7 linked regions of the Homo sapiens genome follow. The protein of the gene in region 3 purifies or fractionates together with the protein of the main gene of each other region. This does not show direct contact. Each region holds a gene or a part of one and is shown on either strand. Other genes may lie near its edges. The genes, in order: MELK, SLC25A12, SRGAP2, TBC1D25, DEPDC1B, SLC30A4 and RALGPS2.

What was found.
Region 1: the proteins of SRGAP2 (region 3) and MELK purify together in Homo sapiens (affinity purification with mass spectrometry, with the first as the bait; one large-scale study listed by BioGRID). This does not show direct contact.
Region 2: the proteins of SRGAP2 (region 3) and SLC25A12 purify together in Homo sapiens (affinity purification with mass spectrometry, with the first as the bait; one study listed by BioGRID). This does not show direct contact.
Region 4: the proteins of SRGAP2 (region 3) and TBC1D25 purify together in Homo sapiens (affinity purification with mass spectrometry, with the first as the bait; one large-scale study listed by BioGRID). This does not show direct contact.
Region 5: the proteins of SRGAP2 (region 3) and DEPDC1B purify together in Homo sapiens (affinity purification with mass spectrometry, with the first as the bait; one large-scale study listed by BioGRID). This does not show direct contact.
Region 6: the proteins of SRGAP2 (region 3) and SLC30A4 purify together in Homo sapiens (co-immunoprecipitation; one large-scale study listed by IntAct). This does not show direct contact.
Region 7: the proteins of SRGAP2 (region 3) and RALGPS2 purify together in Homo sapiens (affinity purification with mass spectrometry, with the first as the bait; one large-scale study listed by BioGRID). This does not show direct contact.

Annotation. Positions count from the first base shown.
Region 1 is NC_000009.12:36,673,895-36,678,182, forward strand, and holds the end of MELK (maternal embryonic leucine zipper kinase), read left to right. Parts: intron 1-939; coding exon 940-1,043; intron 1,044-3,265; coding exon 3,266-3,443; 3' UTR 3,444-3,788; downstream 3,789-4,288. UniProt on the Homo sapiens protein: Serine/threonine-protein kinase involved in various processes such as cell cycle regulation, self-renewal of stem cells, apoptosis and splicing regulation. Has a broad substrate specificity; phosphorylates BCL2L14, CDC25B, MAP3K5/ASK1 and ZNF622.
Region 2 is NC_000002.12:171,887,745-171,891,244, forward strand, and holds part of SLC25A12 (electrogenic aspartate/glutamate antiporter SLC25A12, mitochondrial), read right to left. Parts: intron 1-3,500. UniProt on the Homo sapiens protein: Mitochondrial electrogenic aspartate/glutamate antiporter that favors efflux of aspartate and entry of glutamate and proton within the mitochondria as part of the malate-aspartate shuttle.
Region 3 is NC_000001.11:206,458,541-206,461,738, reverse strand, and holds part of SRGAP2 (SLIT-ROBO Rho GTPase-activating protein 2), read right to left. Parts: intron 3,117-3,198; coding exon 2,792-3,116; intron 2,155-2,791; coding exon of another isoform or gene 2,065-2,154; exon of another isoform or gene 2,060-2,064; intron 703-2,059; coding exon 319-702; 3' UTR 1-318. UniProt on the Homo sapiens protein: Postsynaptic RAC1 GTPase activating protein (GAP) that plays a key role in neuronal morphogenesis and migration mainly during development of the cerebral cortex. Regulates excitatory and inhibitory synapse maturation and density in cortical pyramidal neurons.
Region 4 is NC_000023.11:48,546,214-48,549,713, reverse strand, and holds part of TBC1D25 (TBC1 domain family member 25), read right to left. Parts: intron 201-3,500; exon of another isoform or gene 70-200; intron 1-69. UniProt on the Homo sapiens protein: Acts as a GTPase-activating protein specific for RAB33B. Involved in the regulation of autophagosome maturation, the process in which autophagosomes fuse with endosomes and lysosomes.
Region 5 is NC_000005.10:60,599,167-60,602,666, forward strand, and holds part of DEPDC1B (DEP domain-containing protein 1B), read right to left. Parts: intron 95-3,500; coding exon 1-94.
Region 6 is NC_000015.10:45,479,106-45,481,930, forward strand, and holds the end of SLC30A4 (probable proton-coupled zinc antiporter SLC30A4), read right to left. Parts: 3' UTR 501-2,825; downstream 1-500. UniProt on the Homo sapiens protein: Probable proton-coupled zinc ion antiporter mediating zinc import from cytoplasm potentially into the endocytic compartment. Controls zinc deposition in milk.
Region 7 is NC_000001.11:178,892,744-178,896,243, reverse strand, and holds part of RALGPS2 (ras-specific guanine nucleotide-releasing factor RalGPS2), read right to left. Parts: intron 2,326-3,500; coding exon 2,220-2,325; intron 1-2,219. UniProt on the Homo sapiens protein: Guanine nucleotide exchange factor for the small GTPase RALA. May be involved in cytoskeletal organization. May also be involved in the stimulation of transcription in a Ras-independent fashion.

The sequences.
Region 1 (4,288 bases), on a different chromosome or scaffold from region 3:
GGGAACAAATACATATTTAAAAATATTTATCCATGTGCCACCCAGAATTACCTTGTCTATCTTGTATCACACTATGAGAAGCACTACCTTAAGAAATTTGTATCTCTTCTTTGGGCCATAGGTTCTTATTTTGAAAAGTAAGATAGTTGGATACTTTTCTTCCTAGGCATTTTGTTATTTATACAATGAACTCAAACCTGAAAGATATAGAAACTATGGTTTTGTTTGACAGTGAAGGTACTTACCAGGAAGGGAGGGATTTTTGTGTGTCCAGGACCCACTAAAACAGTGCCTACCACATAGTAAACATTCAAAAGTAGTTGTTGAATGAATGAAGGATAAATATCAATTAGGAATGAAATTATCTCTGAGAATTAGGCTCTCAGTCAATGAGAAAAAATAATATGACATCACTTTTTTAAAGGAATACCTGTTACATTTATTTCCTCATAGAACTGTCATAAAATCAGCTCCTGGAACTCTATAATATTCTTTAAATAATCCAGAAAGAGTTAAGGAAACATATCCAACTAGGTACAAAGCAAACTTTGTATGGTGTTTGTTTATCTTTCCGTGGTATACATTTCAGGACTGTTAATGTCTCTTAAAATAGTGTGGGAAGGGGAAAATAGGCAAAGCTCAAACAGTTAGATGGGTGCTCTTTAATATTTATTTCTTTAAAAGGATTGGTAGGAGAGGAAGATGAAAGTATGAAAAGGAAGCTATGGGTGTGTTTACTAATAACCATAACTTCTCCAAGCTCTCCCAGTGGGCCATTAACTCACTAAGAGTTGACTGTAAATTCCTTTGATATTTTTTAGGAAATAGTTCCATTTGAAACAGTACTATATTGAGGAGTTTTGGAACTCTTGATCTGGTGTGATGGTCTTTGTGTTGATGTAAAAATTTACTTCTCATCTCTTCTTTTTCTTTTCTTAGCTTCACTATAACGTGACTACAACTAGATTAGTGAATCCAGATCAACTGTTGAATGAAATAATGTCTATTCTTCCAAAGAAGCATGTTGACTTTGTACAAAAGGGGTAAGAAGCACATTTACAAGCTGTTGCATTTATTAGTATCTTTTGGACTTTGAGAAAATAGGAGTTGGTTGGGCGCGGTGGCTCACGCCTGTAATCCCAGCACTTTGGGAGGCTGAGGTGGGCAGATCACTTGAGGCCAAGAGTTCAAGTTCAGCCTGGCCAACATGGAGAAGCCCTGTCTCTACTGAAAATACAAACAATTAGCTGGGCATGGTGGCACATGCCTGTAGTTCCAGCTACGTGGGAGGCTGAGGCATGAGAATCACTTGAACCTGGGTGGAGGCTGCAATGAGCTGAGATCACACCACTGCACTCCAGCATAGGTAACAGAGCGAGACTCTGTCTCAAAAAAAAGAGAAAATAGAAGTTGATCTCCTCACCCCTGTGCTTTAGAAAAAATGTATTTCTCCCACCTCATTCCCAAAAGCTTTTGAGGTAGTGTTATTGCTTATAATTTATTCTCTTTTGTTTGGTTCAAGCTATAAAAGTTTTAGAAGCACAGATATTGTCCCACTTTATTTCAAAATAGGAAAATTCAAAATTCTTCTGGCTTTCTTGTAGATCCTCTATTTTCCTTTGATTGTCTGCTTTACAATAATATTTATAAATTATAATCTAAATTTGTGAGACATTTCAAATGAATCAGGGATTTATACAGAATCCTTCTCTTCATGACTGGCTGTTTTACAGGGCTGGGTTTTCAGTGCTTTAGGAAGTTTTTTCACCTTACCTCTCTCCCGCTGTTGAAGGAACTGCCATCAAAGCCTCCTTGGTTATGATCTCCTGGTCTCAATAGCCAGGCCTCTTCTGGTCACCCAAGATGGCCGTATTTCTAAGCATTTCCATTCAATTATTTCCCTTTAAAATTTCTTTATTAAAGCAACCAGAAGAGACATGCATGGATTTAAACATGTAAATAGAATAGTCAATATAGAGTAAGATTTGAAGAAACAATCTTGTGCAGATATAATTTTTAGTTTTTAGTTATCTGTAAATGTTGGCAAGCATTCCTTCTGTGAACCCTGGCATTCCTCTCAGGCTTCATTAGAACACATCTCTCCCACTCTGATCTCTTCTTCATGCTTGGGGCTATGAGCCTCTGGGCATACCTCTGTCACAGGTCTCTCAATGATCTATTATCTAACATGTGACTAAATTGTTCTATGCCTCATCTTCTTGTCAAGAATCTTAACTTCAGGGTGCTCCTTTTGGCATTTTTGATGTTGACTGCTTATTTTTGAGAGATCAAGCCTCTTTCCCAAAACACATGACTAAGTTAGTAAGAAAAAGAATATTTTGGTACATAACAGTATGAAACAGAAAAAAGTACATAACTGAAACAATGTAACTTCTCCACACATCTGTGGAACAGCACTTAATCAGGAACCCTTAAGTATTTAGGGAATTGAAACTTAAAATCAGTCCTATTTATTGAAGATTGGTAAGACAAACAAAACTCTAAAATAGAATGTAAACTAATTAAATATTATTACATGAATTAAATTTATACAGCTTTGCAGGATCATACGTATGTCTTAAGATGTGTTTCAGGCTTCATTTTGACTGGGCCTTTCCATTCTCAGAGTAGATAATGCGGCAGTTCTATCTATAAATGCCGTACGTTTCAGTTATGGGAATATACCATTTCCTTGGGCTTTTTCTTCTGCTTTTCTTTCTGCCATAAAGTGATGTGATGATCGTCATAAGAGGTTATCTCTCATTACTAATTAGAAAAACCTCAAAAACACACGTGCCTTTCTGACAGGTTACTGGCTTCAGCTTTATTTATATGAAAGACAAGTTTCTGACAAGGCTCACACACATGAAATATTATCTTTCTTGCGCTTTCCTTTGTTGTGAATGTTGTGGAAATGCCCAATGTTTGCGGATTACACGTTGAAAGGATTGCATAAAGAATGCCAGATTTCTTGAGCATGAATGGCATGTATAGCTATGAAACAGGGGCTTTTCTTTGGAGCAAGGGAGACTTGTAATAAAGCCTTTTCATGCTTATTCTTAGGATCCTAGTTCAGTTTCTGGGAAAACACCAGTCATACTCTATTACTAAAGCATAGCTAGGTCATTTGGAAACTGTAAACAGTAATACATTGCTTAATATGAAATAATGGTTCATTTCCTCCACTGGCCTCCTAGAGGCTTAGAAAACTCTTATACAGAATATGGTTCTCCTACTAACTAGCTTCTTATCTTGTTTTTCACAGTTATACACTGAAGTGTCAAACACAGTCAGATTTTGGGAAAGTGACAATGCAATTTGAATTAGAAGTGTGCCAGCTTCAAAAACCCGATGTGGTGGGTATCAGGAGGCAGCGGCTTAAGGGCGATGCCTGGGTTTACAAAAGATTAGTGGAAGACATCCTATCTAGCTGCAAGGTATAATTGATGGATTCTTCCATCCTGCCGGATGAGTGTGGGTGTGATACAGCCTACATAAAGACTGTTATGATCGCTTTGATTTTAAAGTTCATTGGAACTACCAACTTGTTTCTAAAGAGCTATCTTAAGACCAATATCTCTTTGTTTTTAAACAAAAGATATTATTTTGTGTATGAATCTAAATCAAGCCCATCTGTCATTATGTTACTGTCTTTTTTAATCATGTGGTTTTGTATATTAATAATTGTTGACTTTCTTAGATTCACTTCCATATGTGAATGTAAGCTCTTAACTATGTCTCTTTGTAATGTGTAATTTCTTTCTGAAATAAAACCATTTGTGAATATAGCAGGCTTCTCTTTTTTGTATTTGATTTTGATCCAAATAAAACCTCAAATGGCTTCCTGACTATTAAGTAGAGACTATTTGGAGTATGTTTTATCTGTTATCAAATATGCCTTGGGCAGAAAAACAGATAAGAATTCATTTGCATAATTTTTTCCTGTCTGATTTAAGTAGGATTTATTGAGATCGTTAACTGTCACAGCTGTGGTTACCAGAGTTAAACAACACATTTAATATGTTGAATAAAAGAGTATTGACTTTAAGTATGTTTGGTCAACAAATGATAAGTATCCGAACTATGAACCCCCCCTGAAATGTTACTTTATGGTAATTTCCCTAAGTCTCAATGTTGGCCCCAAATTTGTATTTTTATTTCATTTTATTGGTCTCCAAAGGCTAGAACTCAAGTTATATTGGTATGGATTTCACCAATTAAACTAGTTGGAGAAAAAATAGCACTCCTTCTGGTCAGTAGTGAAGGGAATGTTTTGTCATTCATTTAT
Region 2 (3,500 bases), on a different chromosome or scaffold from region 3:
GTAAAATCTTAGCTTAAACCAGTTGTAAAATTACAGCACAGCCTAACACATAAGAATTCATTTGTTGTACTCCAATTTCATGAACTTGGCAGAGTGGAGGTGGGCAGAAAAAGGCAGAATCTTAGTGCATACTGTTGTTGTTGATGTTTTTTAACTAATAGAAACATAGCTCATCAAAACTTGAGAAGCAATGAACACCACAGGAAAAATGAACCTATTTCCCTATATTCAAAATAATAATGCTTTACTCTTATAAAGCCCTTCTTATGAACTCCCACACCAATTCTCATACAATTTCACTAAACATAGATACATAAATAAGTCAGTTGCCACTTTCTTTTCTTTTTTCCTTTTTTTTTTTTTTTTTGGAGACAAAGTCTTGTTCTGTCACCCATGCTGGAGTGCAGTGGTATAATGATAACTCATTGTAACCTCGAACTTCTGGGCTCAAGTGATCCTCCCATCTCAGCTTCCAGAGCAGCTAGGACCACAGGCATGTACCACCGCACCCAGCTAAATCTATATACATATATTTGTAGCCATGGAATCTCGCTTTGTTGCCCAGGCTGGTCTTGAACTCCTGGCCTCAAGTGATCCTCCCACCTCAGCCTCGCAAAGCACTGGGATTACAGGTATGAGCTGCCGCACCCAGCTGATATACCAGTACTTTCAAATAAAAATATATATATATTTTTTTAATTATTATTTTTTTTGAGACAGTGAGTCTCGCTCTGTCGCCCAGGCTGAAGTGCAGTGGCACAATCTCGGCTCACTGCAACCCCCGCTTCCCGGGTTCAAGCGATTCTCCTGCCTCAGCTTCCCTAGTAGCTGAGATTACAGGCGTGCGCTACCACATCTGGCTAATTTTTTATATTTTTTATAGAGACAGGGTTTCACCATGTTGCCCAGGCTGGTCTCAAACTCCTGACCTCAAGTGATCCACCCGCCTCAGCCTCCCAAATTGCTGGGATTACAGGTGTGAGCCACCACACCCGGCCATTTTATTGTTTTACAAATGACTTTTGACCCATGGCTCAAAAGTTTAACAAAATATTCTTATTTGAAAGTAGGAATTTTTATTGACTATTTGTGAACTTAAACAGTTAATGCCACAGATCTACATTTTACAAAGAGTTTTCAACTGTACTCTAAAATTTAAAATTATATCTCTTTATAGTCTTTAAGTAGCTCAGATAATTCTAAACTCAAGTGACCCCAAAATCCTCCCCAAACTAAATCATACTAATAACAGAATAATCTACATTTTAACCTTTAATTATATCCTTCTTGTGAAACTCCTACTTTAAACTTTCATGGGACCATTCTCCCTATTTCCCCTCCTCCTCCTTCCTACTTCAATTGGAGATATCACTTATAAATCAGCCCCTGATCCTCTGCCTTGCTTTATATACAAGGAATTCATCTACCACCTGCACAAATTTGTATCTGTCCAAATCCAACTTTAACTTAGTGAGATACATTTGTTTAGCAACCAAACTAACCCCATCCCCCCAAAAAATATTATCTAAATAGATGCCTTATCAATTAACACCTATCCTAAAACTGACAGGTTCACTTCTACTTCTTCCCTTACTTCCATATTTAATACCAAATTCGATAGATTCTTCCCTTACATCGCTGGTATTGTCCTTGCTTTTCATTTCCCCAGCCATCAACCACTCTAGGTCATTAATTCTCAAAAGTATTACTTCAGTAGCCTCTCAGCTTATCACCTAAGCTACTTCCAATCTCTTCATACTTTATCCAACATACACAAAAAGCTGCCAGAATTCACCACTTCAATTTGCCTACTCAGAAACCCACAGTGGCTCCCTACTGTTTCAAATCCAAATTCCTTGGCTAACTATTCTAGACAGTTACAGTGTAAAGAAACTTTTTAAATTTCATCACCTAAGTAACCAGATTTTTTTTTAACTTCTTAACACTCTGCCATTATCCCCTGATATACCTCTGTCTTTCAAAAGTCACCCCATTTCAATATCCTACCAGTAGTATTATGTAAGGGTTAAGGGTATGGGCTCTGGAATTTGATTTGAATCTGGCTCTACCACATAGTCTGACATTAATTTAACCTCATCTATGTAACAAGGATATTAAACCTGCTTCATAAAGTTGTTATGAAAACTAACATTAATATCCTTAAAGCACTAGGCCAATCTCAAGCACACTCTAAATGATCAATAAATGTTAGCCATTGTCAATATTATTACACAGCCACTATGATGTAAGAAGCCAATCTGATTGCTCTACCACAGGCTATGCATTTGCCTTCACTATTCTTGATTCCCTCAACCACAAACCATGAGAGATGGCATGGGCCTGAGAGAGCAGCTAGTCCAATCACATGTCCATCAGCATTTAGGTCTTGGCTCTGTTGTCTCTCTTGATATTCGACTTGGTGTCTGCTACTGAACAGTATTGTATTGAATAAAAGTGCATGGTACACAGCAAATAATCCTTTGTAAATATTTGTTGGGTAAATATGTTAAGTGCTAAAGAAATACACGGTTAGCATGTATTTTTGTCTTCTATTATAGCTAAAATATTAATCAACTATATGCATCTATAAAACTGTTTCATAAAACTGTTTCTAAACAGTACTGCAAAGCTTCAAATAACTATAGTTTGAAGTATTCAAGCCAGGAATAAAAATCTTTTACTTGGTAACTATCCTCAAATTGATCCAACTAGCAATACTGTATCGTGTGTGTCTGTGTGTGTGTGTGTGTGTGTGTGTAACAAGGTCTTGCTCTGTTGCCAGGCTGGAGTGCAGTGGTATGATCTTGGCTTACTGCAACCTCTGCCTCCTAGGATCAAGCAATCCTCCTACCTCAGCCACCTGAGTAGCTGGGACCACAGATGGATGCCACCAGGTGTGGCTAATTTTTAAAATTTTTTGCAGAGACGAGGTCTCACTATATTGCTCAGGTTGGTCTTGAACTCCTGGGCTCAAGTGATCCTCTAGCCTCAGCCTCCCAAAGTGCTGAGATTACAGGTGTGAGCTACTGCACTCAGCCTATATTGTTATCTTTCTTGCTGCGTTAGGCCTTTCTGAAGGTGAGTATTTACATTCTATCACTCTCTTATCTATCAATAATGCTTGTGTCAATGTTTCATACTTAGTGCTAAATAAGCAGTTATGAATTCCACAAATTTTCAACATAAAAATAAAGGCATCATCAAAATAATGTGTAAAAAGATAATGACGATATGCAAAACAGTAAATGAAAAGCTAAGATTTAAAAGTTGTCAAAGAATCGGCCAGGCATGGTGGCTCACGCCTGTAATCCCAGCACTTTGGGAGGCTGAGGCACACAGATCACGAGGTCAGGAGATCAAGACCATCCTGGCTAACATGGTGAAACCCTGTCTCTACTAAAAATACAAAAAATTAGCCGGGTGTGGTGGCACATGCCTGTAATCCCAGCTACTCGGAGGCAAGAGAATTGCTTGAACCCCGGAGGCAGAAGTTGCAGTGA
Region 3 (3,198 bases):
TGAGCCCATGTCCTCAGGACTGCCTTACCAGATTTCACAGTGACCTGATAATGAAAACCTGTCTCTGGCTAACCTAAGAACGGTACGGACTGCAGCTGGCTGAATTACGACGACTGGGGGAAGCAGAGGGCAGTGGGAAGGGAGAGGCGATACCAAGGGCTTCATTCTCAAGGTTTTGGGAGACGGGGAGGCTAATTCCTGCAAGAACAACTTAGAACCTAATTTTCAACTGAAGTCCCCAAGCTAGTTAAATAGGAAGATTTTAATAACAGTCAGTCCCTATAGTCCCCTTGTCTAGAACAATTAAATTATTATCCCTCAGACAGTACAAGACTTGTCAGTAGACTGTGGGGAAGTTGATGAGTTGACACCAGGGCTAGTGGCATTTGTTTTGGGGAAGACAGTGGGCTTGGGCCGTGTGGCTGGTGGTTTGACCGGGGCAGCCATCTTGACAGACTTGACAGGCCGGAAGGCGCAGGCGATGTCCCCAGCAGTACTGGCGCTGCGCTGGAAGGCGGGCTCGGGGTCCTTGAGGAGCTGGGTGTGCAGAGGGCTGGAGGGCTCTGACGTGGGGGCCACCACTGGGGAGGTTTTGAGGGGCTCCAAGGTGTCCAGAACCACGTCAGGGGTGTGTTTGACACTGCTCTGCCGTTCTAGTTCCCGTAGCTCATTCAGGGCCGAGTTCATTGTTGCCTCAATATCCTGCAAAACAGGAAAAAGGAGGAGGTGAGGCAAATGAGGGGAGAATTCCCCAAGGAGCCGGTTTCAACAACACAGGCCAAGGCATGAAGAAAATGACCGTAAGATGTCCAGATTATTGTACTTGGCCTAAATCTTTGAACATATGAATGCTCAGGAAGTAGGGAAAGGGGGACGGAGGGATTTTCACTGTCATGAGATTTTTTTTTTTCCTTTAGAAAAAGTAATTGATATTTTTTTAGAGACCCTAGGTTTTAGAGATAGATATTGAAATACTTATCGACGAAGTGACATATAATCTAGTGGGGAAGAGAAACACGGACAAAGTAAGAATGGCCAGGAGTTTGGTGATGAGTACATGGGGATTTGTTATCCAGTTCTGTCTGCTTTTGGGTAGGTTTGAAATTGTACATAATAAACACTTTTTTAAAAAGTGGTAGAGATGATGTATGATCTTTATTCTCTTGGACTTCAAGGCCAAAGGTGAAGAGGGTTAGTCCTTCCTCCTCAGGGGCTGAGGAAAGTTTCAGGAGCCCAATACGCCTCCCCCCGCCCCTCCTCCCCAACTCAGGGCAGTGTCCAATTTGAAACCATTTCCTTCCAGCCATCACCACCAAGGGGACAAAAGAATGACCAGGAAGGGGAGCCAAAGCCCACATAGGTGAATCAATTGCCTGCAAATCAATGGAACACTCTAGATCTTTAGCCAACAGCAGTCCTAGCCCAGGGACTCAAGGCAGAACCAAAGAACCTTTGTATGCAAGCCAGCTGCCTTCCAGTGAGACTTCCCAGCTCCCCGCTCCCTCCCCATAAACCTGTGTCTGGCACCCCCAAACTACCACAGGATTTCTTCTTGGGATTAGGTTCACATGGAAAGATTTTACACATTCCAAGCGAAGGCCTTTGGTTAAGGTTTCTTTGTCGTACAGACCGATGCATGCTTTCTGTTCACAGTGATTCAGTTTCACTCATCCCTATGACATTCTCAAACCTTTAAAATGCTCAGGAAGAACTCCATCTCCCTCCTCAGTCGCACTCTACAGCTAGTCTGTCCCAGCTGTCTACCTTTCCTGACATTCCTATTAACACCTGGCCAAGGAGGGAGCTGGGAGGATTCCCGTAGCGCAAGGCAGATTGCAGCCAAGAGCTTAAATAGAGGCACAGAATAGAAGGCTAGCAAAGCAAGACATCTCAGGCCTGTAGCTCAATACTGGGCTTGCCAGGTACATCTCCGTAAGCAGAGAACCACAATTAAGCCAAGAGAGACCATGCCCAGCCTCTATCACCCCCTGGAAGATGGGGTAAGGAGAATCTCAACTCAGTTGAGATAAGAAGGCAACAATAAGCCCTTAGTTCCTACCTGGTCTAATGAAAATTATATAGTTGGGAGAGACGTCTGAGTGAACTGCTTGGAGTGGCCCCGGTAGTCGGATTTTTAGAGGTGGGGTTGGATCTCTAATATTTCATGGAAAACAGAGAGTCATCAGTGCGGTGCATACACAGAAGGAAGACCCTGCAACCAGGGAGCTCATCTCCATAGCCTCTGGAGGCTTGGGCTGCAAATCCTTTTGGTTACCAGAGCTCTCTGCAGCCAGAGTATTTTTTAGGTCTTTAAAACCAGGTGCAGGTTCTTAATTGATCATCTACCCATTCGGTACCAGAGACTAGCCTTAGGAATCGGGATGATGGTGATGGGCACAGCAATATAAACATGTGGCCAGGATTACACCTGATCCTCAACAGTCGGGCAGTTTCACTAAAGTCTACCAAGGTCTTTAGACTCAAAACTTGGGCTTTCAAAATACTCTTAATACCGGCTTTAAAAATTACAACAGCCTTCCTAATAGCCAGTGTATGAGCAAGAAGCTAGGCTTCTTTTATTCTGTCTTTAGGTTCTTCCTGGGGAGAGAGGGACAGGCAGACCACTTATTAAGCTGTCTTATTGGGTCCACATGTCCAGAGTGGACATATACTCAGTATATCACATACAAAATAATCATTCTGTTTCAAGTCCTGTCATAATTAGGTGGGTGGCACTAAGTGGTAGTGATGAATGTAGACTCATGCTGTCTGTCCAGGAGCCCACAGTTACCTGAGCAATGACCTCAGGGTCCATGGGCCGATGGTTATTGAAGCTTTTTGACCTTCCCGCTGTGGCAGTCTTCCGGATCTGTGGACTATCCAGCCGATTCTTCAGGGATGAGTGGCGGCTGATGGAGTTGAGGCTCCCGTGCCCACTGATGGAACACTTATCTGGCCCTTCTTTGGGGAGGCTCTGGCTCATGATGGGCTGGGAGGATGGGCGGCAGCTAGCCCCCACCCCTGGGGAGGAGGAGTCAGTCAGGGAACTGCTCAGCCCATGGCTGTCACTCCGAAAAGTTTTCCGGATGCTCCCAGATTCTGGACGCTTCCTTTGCCTTCAATCACAAACAGAAAGGGCAGTGTGATCAGGGAGCCCTGGCTCCAAGGAAGCTAGGATAAGTGGGAGGGGGCAGATGT
Region 4 (3,500 bases), on a different chromosome or scaffold from region 3:
GCCTGACCAACATGGTGAAACTCCATCTCTACTAAAAATACAAAAGTAGCCAGGTGTAGTGGCACATGCCTGTAATCCCAGCTACTTGGGAGGCTGAGGCAGGAGAATCACTTGAACCCAGGAGGCGGAGGTTGCAGTGAGCCGAGATCGCGCCATCGCACTCCAGCCTGGGCAATGAGAGTGAAACTCTGTCCCTCCACCTGCAATAAAAAGGAGAAACTCAGAAATCATAAAGAAAAAGATAGATATCTGTGTAGGCGTGCAATCAAATGTTTAATTTTGATAGGACAAAACAGATCCATCCCGTAAGCAAAGCCAAAAAACAAAAGATCAACTGGGAAAAATATTTGCAGTACCTATGATAGAAAGGAGGTTGGGGGCTGGGCACGGTGGCTCCCGCCTGTAATCCAAACACTTTGAGAGGCCGAGGTGGGTGGATCACTTGAGGTCAGAAGTTCGAGACCAGCCTGGCCAACATGGCAAAACCATGTCTCTACAAAAAATACAAAAATTAGCTGGGCATGGTGGTGCACACCTGTAGTCCCAGCTACTTGAAAGCCTGAGGCAGGAGGAGAGCTTGAGGTCAAGGCTGCAGTGGGCCATATTTGCGTCACTGCATTCCAGCCTTGGTGACAAAGAGAGTCTCAAAAAGAAAAAAGATTCATATCGGAAAAGTACAAATTGGTCAAAGGTCTAGGCTTTGTAATCTCCCAACTGTAGAGGTGACAGAAACTGGCTTTTTCCCAGAAAGAGGGACTGGGCCATCCAAACAGTCCCAACATGTCTGTTGCTTTCACAGCCATGAAAATGATCATGAGAATGCCATTAATATGTCTAATGATAGCTCCATATATTGGACACTTACATATTAATGTGTAGAATACCTTATGTTAAACACATACCGTTTATGTGTACAGACACGCAAATATGAATATACTCACATATGTGGATAAATGTGTGTGTAGGGAGTGTAAATAAGTAAAGGACATGCAAAGTTACACATCAAACCGATTCCCTCGGGGCAAAAAGGGTAGGGTAGGGGATTGAGATTAGGCATAGCGTTCCCAGGAGACTTCAGCATTATTTAAAATGCTTTTATTTTTAATAAGAATGTATTTACTGGGTAATGAAAGATTAGTTTCTCTTAAAAATATGACTCCAATCAAATTCCCGTCAGGATTTTAATGGAATAATAAGCTGATTTATTAAATAAAAAGAACAGTAAGTGAACAAGAATATTCAAGAAAATTTTTTAAAAAGGAAAACATGAAAACATATCATAAAACTATAATGATTAAGGCTGGGTGCGGTGGCTCTTGCTTGTAATCCCAGCACTTTGGGAGGCTGAGGCGGGCAGACTGCTTGAGTCCAGGAGTTCAAGACCAGCCTGGGCAACACGGCGAAACCCTGTCTCTACAAAAAATACAAAAATTAGCTGGGCATGGGGGCATGTGCCTATAGGCCCAGCTACTCAGGAGGCTGACGTGGGACAATTGCTTGAGCCTGGGAGGTGGAGGCTGCAGTGAGCTGAGATTGGGCCACTGCACTCCAGCAAGGATGACAGAGTGAGACCCTGTCTCAAAAAAAAAACAAAAAAAAAACCCTCAAAACCAAACAAACAAACAGAAAACAAACTACTACAATGATTAAAACAACATAGAATTGGCTTATAATTTAATAAATAGATCAACGTAAGAGAATCAGGAATTCAGAAACAGACCGATGTTGTGCAGGAATTTGGTAAATAAGACAGAGGGCTTTTTTTTTTTTTTTTTTGAGATGGAGTCTAGTTCTGTCACTCAGGCTGGAGTGCGGTGGCACGAGCTCGGATCATTGCAACCTCCGCCTCCCAGGCTCAAGCAATTCTCCTGCCTCAGTCTCCCGAGTAGCTGGGATTACAGGCGCCTACCACCACGCCCGGCTAATTTCTGTATTTTTAGTAGAGACAGGGTTTCGCCATGTTTGGCCAGGCTGGTCTCGAACTCCTGACCTCAGGTGATCCACCCGCCTCGGCCTCCCAAAGTGCTGGGATTACAGGCGTGAGCCACGGCGCCTGGCCTAAAAAGATAACCTTTTAAAGATGTATTCCTGCCAGACTACTGGGTGTCTTTCTGTCTGTCTCTCTGCTTTACTGGCATTCGTCCCAGTTCTCATGCACTTGGGGTTTTCTCCACATGTTTCGTAGCCATGCAGATTTGATTTTTTTCCTGAAATAGTGCTACTGTGTCTCTTTAACAGGTGAGGAAAACAAGGCCCAGGGAATTAAGTGACTGACATAAGCACATATGGCTACTCAGTGGCAGAGGTTCCTGTGTGTCTGGCTACCTGGCTTTTCCTATTTGGCTTCCTGCCCATCTCTGTCACTATCTTTCCCTCTGACTCTTGTTTCTCTCTCTCCTCTGTCTCTCTTTTGCAAAGCTGCCAATTTTAACAAGTCCAAAATGTTGTAGAGTTAAATGGTTAAGAACAAGGACTCTGGAGCCAGTTCAGCCACTGCCTGAGTTCAAATCTTGCTCTTCAACTTACTGTCTGTATAACTGGGACGAGTCCTGTCACCTCTCTGAGCCTCAGTTTCCTCATCTATAATATGGGGAAAATGATTGTCCCTACTCTATAGGATTATTTTGACAATTCAGTGAAAAAATATTATGTGCACAGAATGGCCCTAAGTGTTCACTACACATTAGCTAGTTATATGTTATTATGACATCAATAAAGTGCTCGACTCATCCCAAATGGGCACATGAGTTTCCTGAGGCTGGGAACCACATCTTCCACTCCACAACTATTTAAAACAATTTTGAACCTACAATAAAGTTAAAAGAATACACTGAACACCCATACATACTTCATCTAGATCCTCTATTAACATTTTTTTGGGCCACATTTGCTTTATCTCACTCTCTCTGTATATAAACACATTATTTTTGCCAACTTATTTGCAGACATCATGACATTTTACCCCTTCATACTTAACTGTGTCTTTCCCAAGAACAAGGATATTTTCCTTCAATAGATATGATACCACTACCACACTGCTATGGTTTGAATGTGTCCTTCCAAATTCATGTGTTGCAATTTAATTACCAATGTGATCATATTAAGAGGTGGGGGCCTTTAAGAGGTGATTAAGTCCTGAGGGTAGAGCTCTCACAGATGGGATTAGGGCTCTTTTTTTATTTTTTATTTTATTTATTTTTTGAGATGGAGTCTTGCTCTGTTGCCCAGGCTGGAGTGCAGTGGTGCGATCTTGGCTCACTGCAAGCTCCGCCTCCCGGGTTCATGCCATTCTCCTGCCTCAGCCTCCCGAGTAGCTGGGACTACAGGCACCCGCCACCACGCCCGGCTATTTTTTTGTATTTTTAGTAAAGACAGGGTTTCACCGTGTTAGCCAGGGTGGTCTCGATCTCCTGACCTTGTGATCTGCCCGCCTCGGCCTCCTAAACTGCTGGGATTACAGGCGTGAGCCACCGTGCTCAGCCTCTTTTTTTTTTTTTTTT
Region 5 (3,500 bases), on a different chromosome or scaffold from region 3:
ATGATCTTTGATATTCAAATTCCTCTGGACTAATTTGACGGCAAAATGATGGAGCAGATAAAGTGATATCCATATCAGCTCCTGGGTATTTTATCTGAGGCAAAAGGATTAGTAGTGAAAGAATATAGCATATTTTCAAATAAATTATAAGAATTAGTTTAGATCAAATACAGGATATCTCCTTGTACCGTAGCAATGCCATGTTAGTCCTCAAAATTTGATTGGGGGAAACTCTATATTGAAAAGTAAAAGTATTTCCATAACTTCAAAATATTATTATTTAAAGCCACGGTTTTAAATTGGATTTTTACCTTTGTAAACCCAAGAGCCATTTCAATAACAAAAAAAGCTTGTGCCCTCGTTGGGAACAGGCCCCAAAACTGGCCATAAACAAAATCTCTGCAGCACTGTGACATGCTCGTGATGGCCTTGATGCCCATGCTGGAAGGTTGTCCGTTTACAGGAATGAGGGCAAGGAACACCTGGCCCACCCAGGGCGGAAAACCGCTTAAGGCATTCTTAAACCACAAACAATAGCATGAGCGATCTGTGCCTTAAAGACATGTTCATGCTGCAGATAACTAGCCAGAGCTCTTCCCTTTATTTCACCCACCCCTTTATTTCCCATAAGGAATACTTTTAGTAAATCTTATGACTGGCTTGCTGTCAATAAATATGTGGGTAAATCTCTGTTCAAAGCTCTCAGCTCTGAAGGCTGTAAGACCCCTGATTTCCCACTCCACATTCTATATTTGTGTGTGTGTGTGTGTGTGTCTTTAATTCCTCTAGGGCCACTGGGTTAGGGTCTCCACGACCGAGCTGGTCTCGGCATTCCCTCTTTTAACAAGATCTGAAATTCAAGCATAAATTAAACACATTGACTAAAATGATTCAAAACATTGATAATGTTGGATATCCACTGGAACTATCCAGGCGCATTCCCACATCTGAAGAGTGTGATTCTCAATGCCTTGGGGATGGTAGTGGCATGCATTTAGCTAAGCTTTTAGGAAGAGAGGGGTACTACAATCATTTCCTAACATCTTACCCATGAGAATCAAGTAAAACAACAAAGGTGCAGACATTGCAGAAGGGATAAGGGAGAAGAGAGAAATAAGAGGAAAAAGGAAACCAAGGCCTGTGAATAAATGAACATACATTAAAAATATTTAATTTCAGAGCCTGGAGTCCTTTGAAATAGAAGGTTGCAGATGAGGATCATAGAAGGCTTGTGTCAAAAACATTGCCTACCTAATAATGTATCCCAGGGTCAGCCCTGAAACTGTCCTAAAACAATCACTGGAATAATCCAAGCAACACTGCATTTTCAGAGAAGCACTCCCCTAAATGTGATACAGTGTAGAGGCTTAGGAGCCTAATCAAAAGAACAAAGATCTATAGGTTCTGAGGGCTGAATGGAACAGGTGCTTGGCAATTCTAATATGTACTTGCAAGAGAGAAAAGGTAACTGGACAAATGAATCACTACTGATTTTATTCAGAGCACACTGCAGTGTCTCTTAACAAGATCATGTTTACCTGCAGTTAAATTAATCACCATAGCTCAGCCTTCTGAACTTCAAGTAATAGCAAAGGGCTCACAAGGCTAAGTTACTACAATATATGCCTGTGCTATGCATGTGAATACACAAACCTAGCAAGTATACAGGGCAACACAGTTATTGCTTGATATTGTTTGGCTGTGTCCTCACCCAAATCTCATCTTGAAATGTAGTTCCCATAATCCCCTTGCTGTGGGAGATGGGAGGTAACTGAATCACAGGGTGGTTCCCCCCATGCTGTTCTTATGATAGTGAGTGAGTTCTCATGAGATCTGATGGTTTTATGAGGGGCTTTTCTCCCTTTTGCTCGGTGCTTCTCTCTCCTGCTGCCTCATGAAGGATGTGTTTGCTTCCCCTTCTGCCATGATTGTAAGTTTCCTGGGGCCTCCCCAGCCATGCTGAACTCTGAGTCAATGAAACCTCTTTCCTTTACAAATTACCCAGTCTTGGGTATGTCTTTATTAGCAGCATGAGAGCAGACTAATACACTGCTATAACATTTCCTTGCAGAAACTTGGTGAAGTATTTCTGTTCATTTTTATTTTCTTTAGGGTTGGCTCATAAAAATATCAGAGGAAAAAATTAAACTAAAACAGCAGTTAAAATTACACTTTTCACCCATGCAAGTGGCAAAGATATATACAAGTGTTAATGATAATATCCAAAGTAGGCAAAGGGGCAAAGAAATGAACACTCTCTTATACCACTGACAGAAATGTAAATTGAAATGATCATTCTAAATTTGGCAATATGCTATAGATACTTAAAATATGTTCATGGCCTTTGGCCAAGCAATGCTGCCCCTAGGAGTTTATTCTTAAAAAATAATCACAGATTAGCCAAAAAAAATCTACCTTTAAAAATATTTACTGCTATATTGCTTCCAAAATGGGGGAAAGCATGAAAACAATCTAAATACCAACCAAAAAGTATCATTTAAATAAATTATGGTATATCCATATTATGGAATACTATGTTGCCAATAATATTATTATGGAATAATATAACAATAATGATGATACCAACAACAAAGGCAGCTACTAATTGTAGGTTTACAATGTGATAAACATTATTGTGAGCATTTCACATGTATTAAGCCCACATGTATTTTAATCACATGTTTTAATTCCCCAGAAAAACTCTATGAGGTAAATATTAACTACTATTATTCCCATTTTACAGATGAGAAAAAGAAATGTTGGGACAGATGTTGAAGCACAGACATGTTATATAATTTGCCTAAGGTGACACAGCTAACAAAAGGCATGTCATGAATTCAAAGGCTCCTGAGTCTGTGCTCTTGGCCATTCTCATGCCAATCAACAATATTTAATGATGGGGGAATTTTTTTCTCATTGTTAACAGAATGTAAGTGGCAGGAAGGGAGGCAGGCAGGAAGGGAGGCAGGCAAGAAGGAAGCAGGGAAGGTGGGAAGGAGGGAAGGAAGGAAGGGAGGGTGGGGAGGGAAGAGAGAGGGAAGAAAGTAAGGTAGGCATGGACATAGACAGCAGACAGACACAGAAAAAAAAATCTGAAAGACTATATTACTGACTATGAACATTTTAGTGTAACTCTGATACTTTTTGGTGTGTTTTTTCTATATTTCCCAAGTTTCTTCAATGTGTTAGGTTGATAATTGCAAAAAAATAGAAAAAATTTTAATTTTAAAATTGCCTTCTAGAAACAGCTGGACAATTAATTATTTTTGTAATACCTCAGAAGGAGGCAGTTCACTGGTCCTTGATTGTGGTGCCTCAAAAAGATCTCAAATGAGAAGAGGTCCAATCAGTCAGAAGGAGTCAAGTGGACCTTCTGCCTGCCTTTACCAGGTTTCTGCTCCCACAGGCTGACATACAAACCCCACTTTGGGGTCCACACGATAATAATATATTATATTTCTTTTGCATTGTTTTTATATAACCACCATGACAACAGCAGC
Region 6 (2,825 bases), on a different chromosome or scaffold from region 3:
GCTCAGTGTAGCCTAGACCTCCTGAGCTCAAGTGATCCTCCTATCTCTCAGCCTCCTGAGTAGCTGGGATCACAGGCATGTGCCACTATGCCCAGTTAATTTTTGTATTTTTTGTAGAGATGAGGTTTCACCATGTTGCCAAGGCTGGTCTTGAACTCCTGGGTTCAAGCAATCCAGCTGCCTTGGCCTCCTGAAATGTTAGGATTACAGGCGTGAGCCACTGCACCCAGTGATTTAATAGATGTAAAAATCATTCTTAGTTCTTGGGGCAAATAAAACAGGCTTGCAGGCCAGATTTGGCCTGGGAGGTATAGTGTAGACTGGTCCACACGATTGGAGAGTCAGCAGGCTCTTACTCTCAGACTTCCTGGTGGTCCTCACCAGTCTATTTTACAGTGGCTTCTTTATTTCCTTTCTGCCACTGTTGATGGGACTGTAGCGTCACTGCATGTGACTGATACCAAAAGAGAAAGGTTCTTTTAATTAATCTTTCCATACTATCCAGAAGATTTTTTTCAGTTTTATTTCTTAAACATATAAGAGGGCATTATAAAATGACATTATAATTATAAAAGATTTTCTTTTAAGAACAATGTTTTTAGGCCTACTAATATTACTTAATAAAAAGAGCAGATATTTAAGAGACTGTACATTTTTATTTAATAAACCACATGGCAAAACAATACTTTAATAAGTGTATAGGAAATTACAATGTGAAAGTTGCAAATACAGCACATATATATATATATATATATACTTTGATCTTAATTAACATGGACAAACCCCAGCTTCAAAATCTTTCTAAAATCAATCATATGCAAAATACCTGGTTTCTGAAAGGGCATATGATAAAGTATATACAATTTCTTAAACTGTGATATGGCTTATTTAATAACATGTATTTATTGAGAGAAGCATAAACTTTCCAAATATACAGTATCTTCCAGGTAGAAAGATGACATACTGGCACATTTCAATTTTGTGTTGCAGTTATCTGAGAATATACTAAATTGCACTATTTAAGTGGACACTGTCATAGATTTAACTGGGAAAGTCTCCATAAATGTTTTCCAATCTTATCAAAAAGCAAATTGGTCCTCAATGATTGGAACAGCAGGTTAAACCCTTTACAAGTCAGAATTCAGTGACTGGCAGGCCTGAGTGCACACATGTAATTCAATACTGAGGAACTCCCACAACACTGTCTTCTAATTTGCATGCTCCCACGAACATCACAAATAATATACCTGATTGGCAATCAGTAAAACAAATCTCAAGACCTGGTTGTCAAGATTCATACGACACATCTGGAGTTAGGGTTTGCAAATTGTATTTTGGCTACAAAGATATTAAACTTTATCAATTATTCGAAGATCAGACTTGCCTCCCCTCAACATAGCATATAGTGATGGGTGTTCATTTATGACAAATAACCAACTGGCTCATGAGCTTGGCTTGCTTCAAAGACAAAATGAACCAAATGAACTAATCTTCTATCTAGGAAACACTCTGTAACTTTAAATTTGCTATATACAAATCAGAGCCAACAGCAAAATTGCCTAAAACCTTATTTCAAATGGGCTCATATTCTGTAAGAACACCATATTAAGTTGAGCCAATTAACATATATGCATAAAAGGAAAATAGATTTAGCTAACTGCTTGTTTCAAAATCAAATAAGTCTACAAAAGCTGTGAGAGTGGCTGAGAAACACGACCCAAAGTCTTCTTAGCAATGATATTCACTGGTGGTTGTGCAGTGTAGTCTCTTTGTCTACCACACTTACTCTACGAAGTCCAGTGTGCAGAGAAATCTGGATCTGGAACAACCAGCCATTTTAAAAAGGTTCTTTCATACCTGGACATACATTTCTAAGCGGTGCCTTGTCTCTGAAAGATGATTTTCCTCACATTAAAATGAGAGAGAAGCTCACGTGTCTGATCTTGACTATGTCTATTCTGGAAAGTCTATGAAAGACAAACACTGTCAGGTGGAACACCTGGGTTCAAAAGGAACACTAAGTCTCGTAAGAGCAAGAAACTTAGTTTTAGAGAATGGAAATAAAGCACCCAAAGTTGAAAAGAAAACAGTAAAATAAGAAACCCGGTGATGTGGCAAAAAAACACTGATGGGAACTCTAAGTTGTAAAAATCTGCACTCACATTACATAAGGCATAGCTAATGGAAATGTATGTAGGAATTACAATAGCTTCCAGTTCTGCATATCAAAACCTTCTGAGACATGCTTTCTTCAATTACACTCCCATTATGTTTCTAAGGCAGCATAATTGTTAGTGGAATAATAGGTCTTTTCCTGAAACAGACCAAAAGGTTGCATCTGGCCATAGTTGTGAAACACACGTTTATGTACACAAGTAACTCTGATTATTTGCAAATACTAATTAAAATATATCACACCAAAGAACTGCCAAGTTTTTATATTGTGGTCTGTGGTCCTGTCATAATCTGTTTTCCCAGTGCAAAATTAATAATGCTATGTGTTCATCCAACTCAGCCACTGCTTTTCACAGGGCATAGAGCTCTTTGAGAGCTCAGCTGAGAAGTGTAATGCATGGTTGTAGCTCAACAAGTGAAGGATAGACCAAACGCTTTTTGTCAGAAGTCATTCAGTCCTTGGTCCTATCTGCTAAGTTAATGTCCTTTTCTGTGGGTTAAGTTACAAAAAGTGAAATCAAATTCTCAAATCTCATAGACTCCGTAAGGTAAAGATACAAACTATGTACTTTTTCCTACAAAAACAAAGCACAGGAAACTTTATGTGTACCTCACTTTAAGCAGAACACGATAGTTAAGATTTACAGAAG
Region 7 (3,500 bases), about 28 Mb from region 3:
TTTGCCCATTTTCTACTTAACTCATTTCATTTGGCTTTTGGGCCATCAAGGTCACTGATGATTGTAATTTTAGCAAAGCCTCTATCCTTATCATAGCCAGCCTCTTAACAGCATCTGACCCAGCTGGCCACTCTTTGCTTTTTGAAGTACTGTAACTGCTAGGCTTCTGGGATAACAGTTCCTTAGTTTTCCTTTATACTCTTCTTTGTGGGAGACCTTTAATGCTACAGAGCCCCATCTCCAACCTTGTTTTCTTCTCTAGCTATACTTTCTTCTTAGATAATCTATCATCCAGTTCCATATTTCAAATACTATCTATCTGTATGCTAATGACTCCCAAATCTATCTCCCTGCCACCTCTCTGCTGACCTCATGATCCATACTTTTTCAACAGCCACAATGACACCTCCACTTGAATGTTTAATAAGCATATCAAACTGAACTTGGCCAAGACTGACCTGCCCCCCATTTCAATAAATGTCCCCAACATACACCCATCTCAGTCCCCAAACCTAGAAGTTATCTTTGTTTTCACTCTTTCTCTCATACATCATGTTTAATTTATCATCAAACAACTCCAGCTTTTGCCTCTTACTTGATCTCCTCCACCTTCCCCAATTTCAATGCGTAAACTACACAAGCCTTCTTGTCTCCTGAACTCTAGATATTCACACAGCTAACTCACCTTCCTCATTCAGATCTCAGCTCAAATGTTTTGCCATGGTGGCATCCCTCCTTGCCCCATCATTCTGTATCCTATGACATTATTTTAAAGCCTTATTCTCTATTTCTCCTCACTGAAATGTAATCCAGGAGGAAGACACTTTGCCTCACCTTGTTCACTGCTCTATTTCTAGCATCCAGCACACAAAAGGTATGGTAATGCTTCAACTGACATGCAATTCTGAGTTCACTAGCCTGCCTAAGAGATTCTTGATTTGTATGTGCCTTTGGCTTACTGTGATATAAACAACAAAATAAGATTACTTATATGAAGCCCCCATATCTTCAAAAGCTTTAAGTGTGAATATATATCAAAGGTTTTATATTTCAAATTTGAGAAAGGGAAAAAAATTGTTCCTTAGTAGTCAAACTACTATGCTGGTGTTGAGGAAGAAGAAACTTCTTTGATACATATTAAGAGCTTTGTTCCACCAATCTTCCTTTTTTCCCCCCCCAATATAGTTATAGGTTTGGAAAGCATTTAATATTTGGATTCTATGTTATGTAGAAAACAAAACTGTATTACAGGAATTTAAATAAAATGATAAAACACAATCAAATTCCATTTTTTAGGGTTGTTACTCTTTATTTTCTATTTTACCTAAACTTAATACTAAAATACTTCTTCATGATATACTTTCAGGGTTCTCTAAGAAATAATTTTGTATACGAACTATAATGGGGGTAAAAAAAAGTACAGGATTTAAGCACCCTTAACACATGATTTAACAGAAATCTATATGGCACATATAATAACATTTTATGTTAAGAAAACATGGTGAAACAAATGTGTACAATATTTTCCCTCTTATCTGTGGTTTCAGTTACCCACAGGCAACCATAGTCTAAAAATATTTATTGGAAAATTTGAGAAATAAACAATTCACAGGTTTTAAAATCATGTGTTGTTCTGAGTAACATGATAAAATCTCACACAGTTCTGCTCTGTGCTTCTGTGGACATAATCTTCCCTTTCTTTGTCCAGCGTCTCCACACTATATGTGCTACCCTTGTGTCCCACTCCCCACTGCTTCCTTAAGTGAAAAGAAAACTTCTTGGATTAAGGAAAGAAAAATTAGACGCTAAGGTTGCTAAGATCCATGGTAAGAACAAATTTTGTATCTGTGAAATTGTGAAGAAGGAAAAAGAAATTCATGCTAGTTTTGCTATAGCATCGCAAACTGCAAAAGTTACGGTTACTGTGTGGGCTTAAGTGCTTAGTTAAGATAGAAAAGGTATTATATTTGTGAATGGAAGACATGAACAGAAACATGTTCCAAATGATGGTAATTTGGTTTGGTACTATCTGAGGTTTCAGTCATCCCCGGGGGATCTTGGAATGGATGACCCAAGGATAAGAGGGGAGGACCTTATTTAATATTATTTCAAGTCTACTATAATCAGGTTTTATTTTAATTGTTTTAGTACTTTTACAGAGTCTTATAAATTTGCATATTTTTAGAGGTGTATTAAAATATAATATGATGAAATCTTACTGTAGGCTTTTTGCCTTCTTTTAACAAAGTTTTTCTCCTGAGAACACCTTGAATAGTAACAGCTCCTGGATATAAATGTACTGCCAAATCTTCTGATTCTGCAGAACTATAATAACGAAGAAAAGAACACATAAGAGCTTTTGTCTACAATAGTCATCAAGTAGGTACTTAAATAAAATGTAATTATTCTTAATTTTAAAAGTTTGTTACTTTATTCAGAGCTGAGAAGACACTGACAATTCTAAAGGTTTATTAATCTTGAAATTTATAAGCTGTACAAAAAGTTGATTAGAAAGTTATTAAAGTCAGCAGATGGTTAAAAAACACACTTTATTACATATTTGAACAGTATAATTTAGAAAGAATGCAGTAATTCACTTTAGTAAATATTAAATTAAAAATTTAAGATTTGTTTTCTTCTTCTTAACATGCCACACTGCATCACTGTTGCAACCTTATTTTCCACATAGAAACTTTAAGTCCTGGTAGGAAAAATGAGGATTCTATTTGTTAAAAGTATTTAAGTATATATAAAACTGAAAATAAAAATACAAGCTCAAAAAAAAAAAAAGAAAACATGCTTAATTTAATTCTAAAATAGCAGAAAGAAGTAATAAAGTCAATAATAATATATTTTAAAAACTAGCTTTCTGCAATACATTTTAATAACATTTAAATGGTGTCAATGGATAAGTGATTATGGCCTAATAGCTCTCCACGAAAGGAAAAAACCCAAAACTCAAGATTTCCTTTTCATGTATCTTTTAAAAAAAAAAAAATCACAAAATAACCAACACTTTAATATCTTTCCCTAATTGATTTAAGGTCCTATGTTTAATACAATAATTAATGATTTCTACATGAGCCAATAAAACATACATGCTGACAAAAATGTCACTGGTGACTTGACATGAGCTGCAGAATTCCTATAAGAGCAATGAAAACTAAAGTTTGCCAGTTTATTCCTTTGTGATTATTTAGGTGTCTTCAGAGTGACTTAAGAACCTATAAACCAGTAGAAATTTCATGCTAGAGCTATTTATATTCAGGGAGGTACATGCACGGAGATTAGACACCATCAAACTGACGTAAAGTTTGCTTCTGAAGTTTGGTATTTTGTTGTATTATGAACTGATTACCCATCACCACTAAACCCCACGTTCCCAATCAATACACCACCCTTATCTGCCTCCACAGCTAATAACAGTCCAAAAGAGACCTGGTTTAACCAGACAAACAACTGAATGAATATGAATTTAAATATACAAATGATTATTTTAT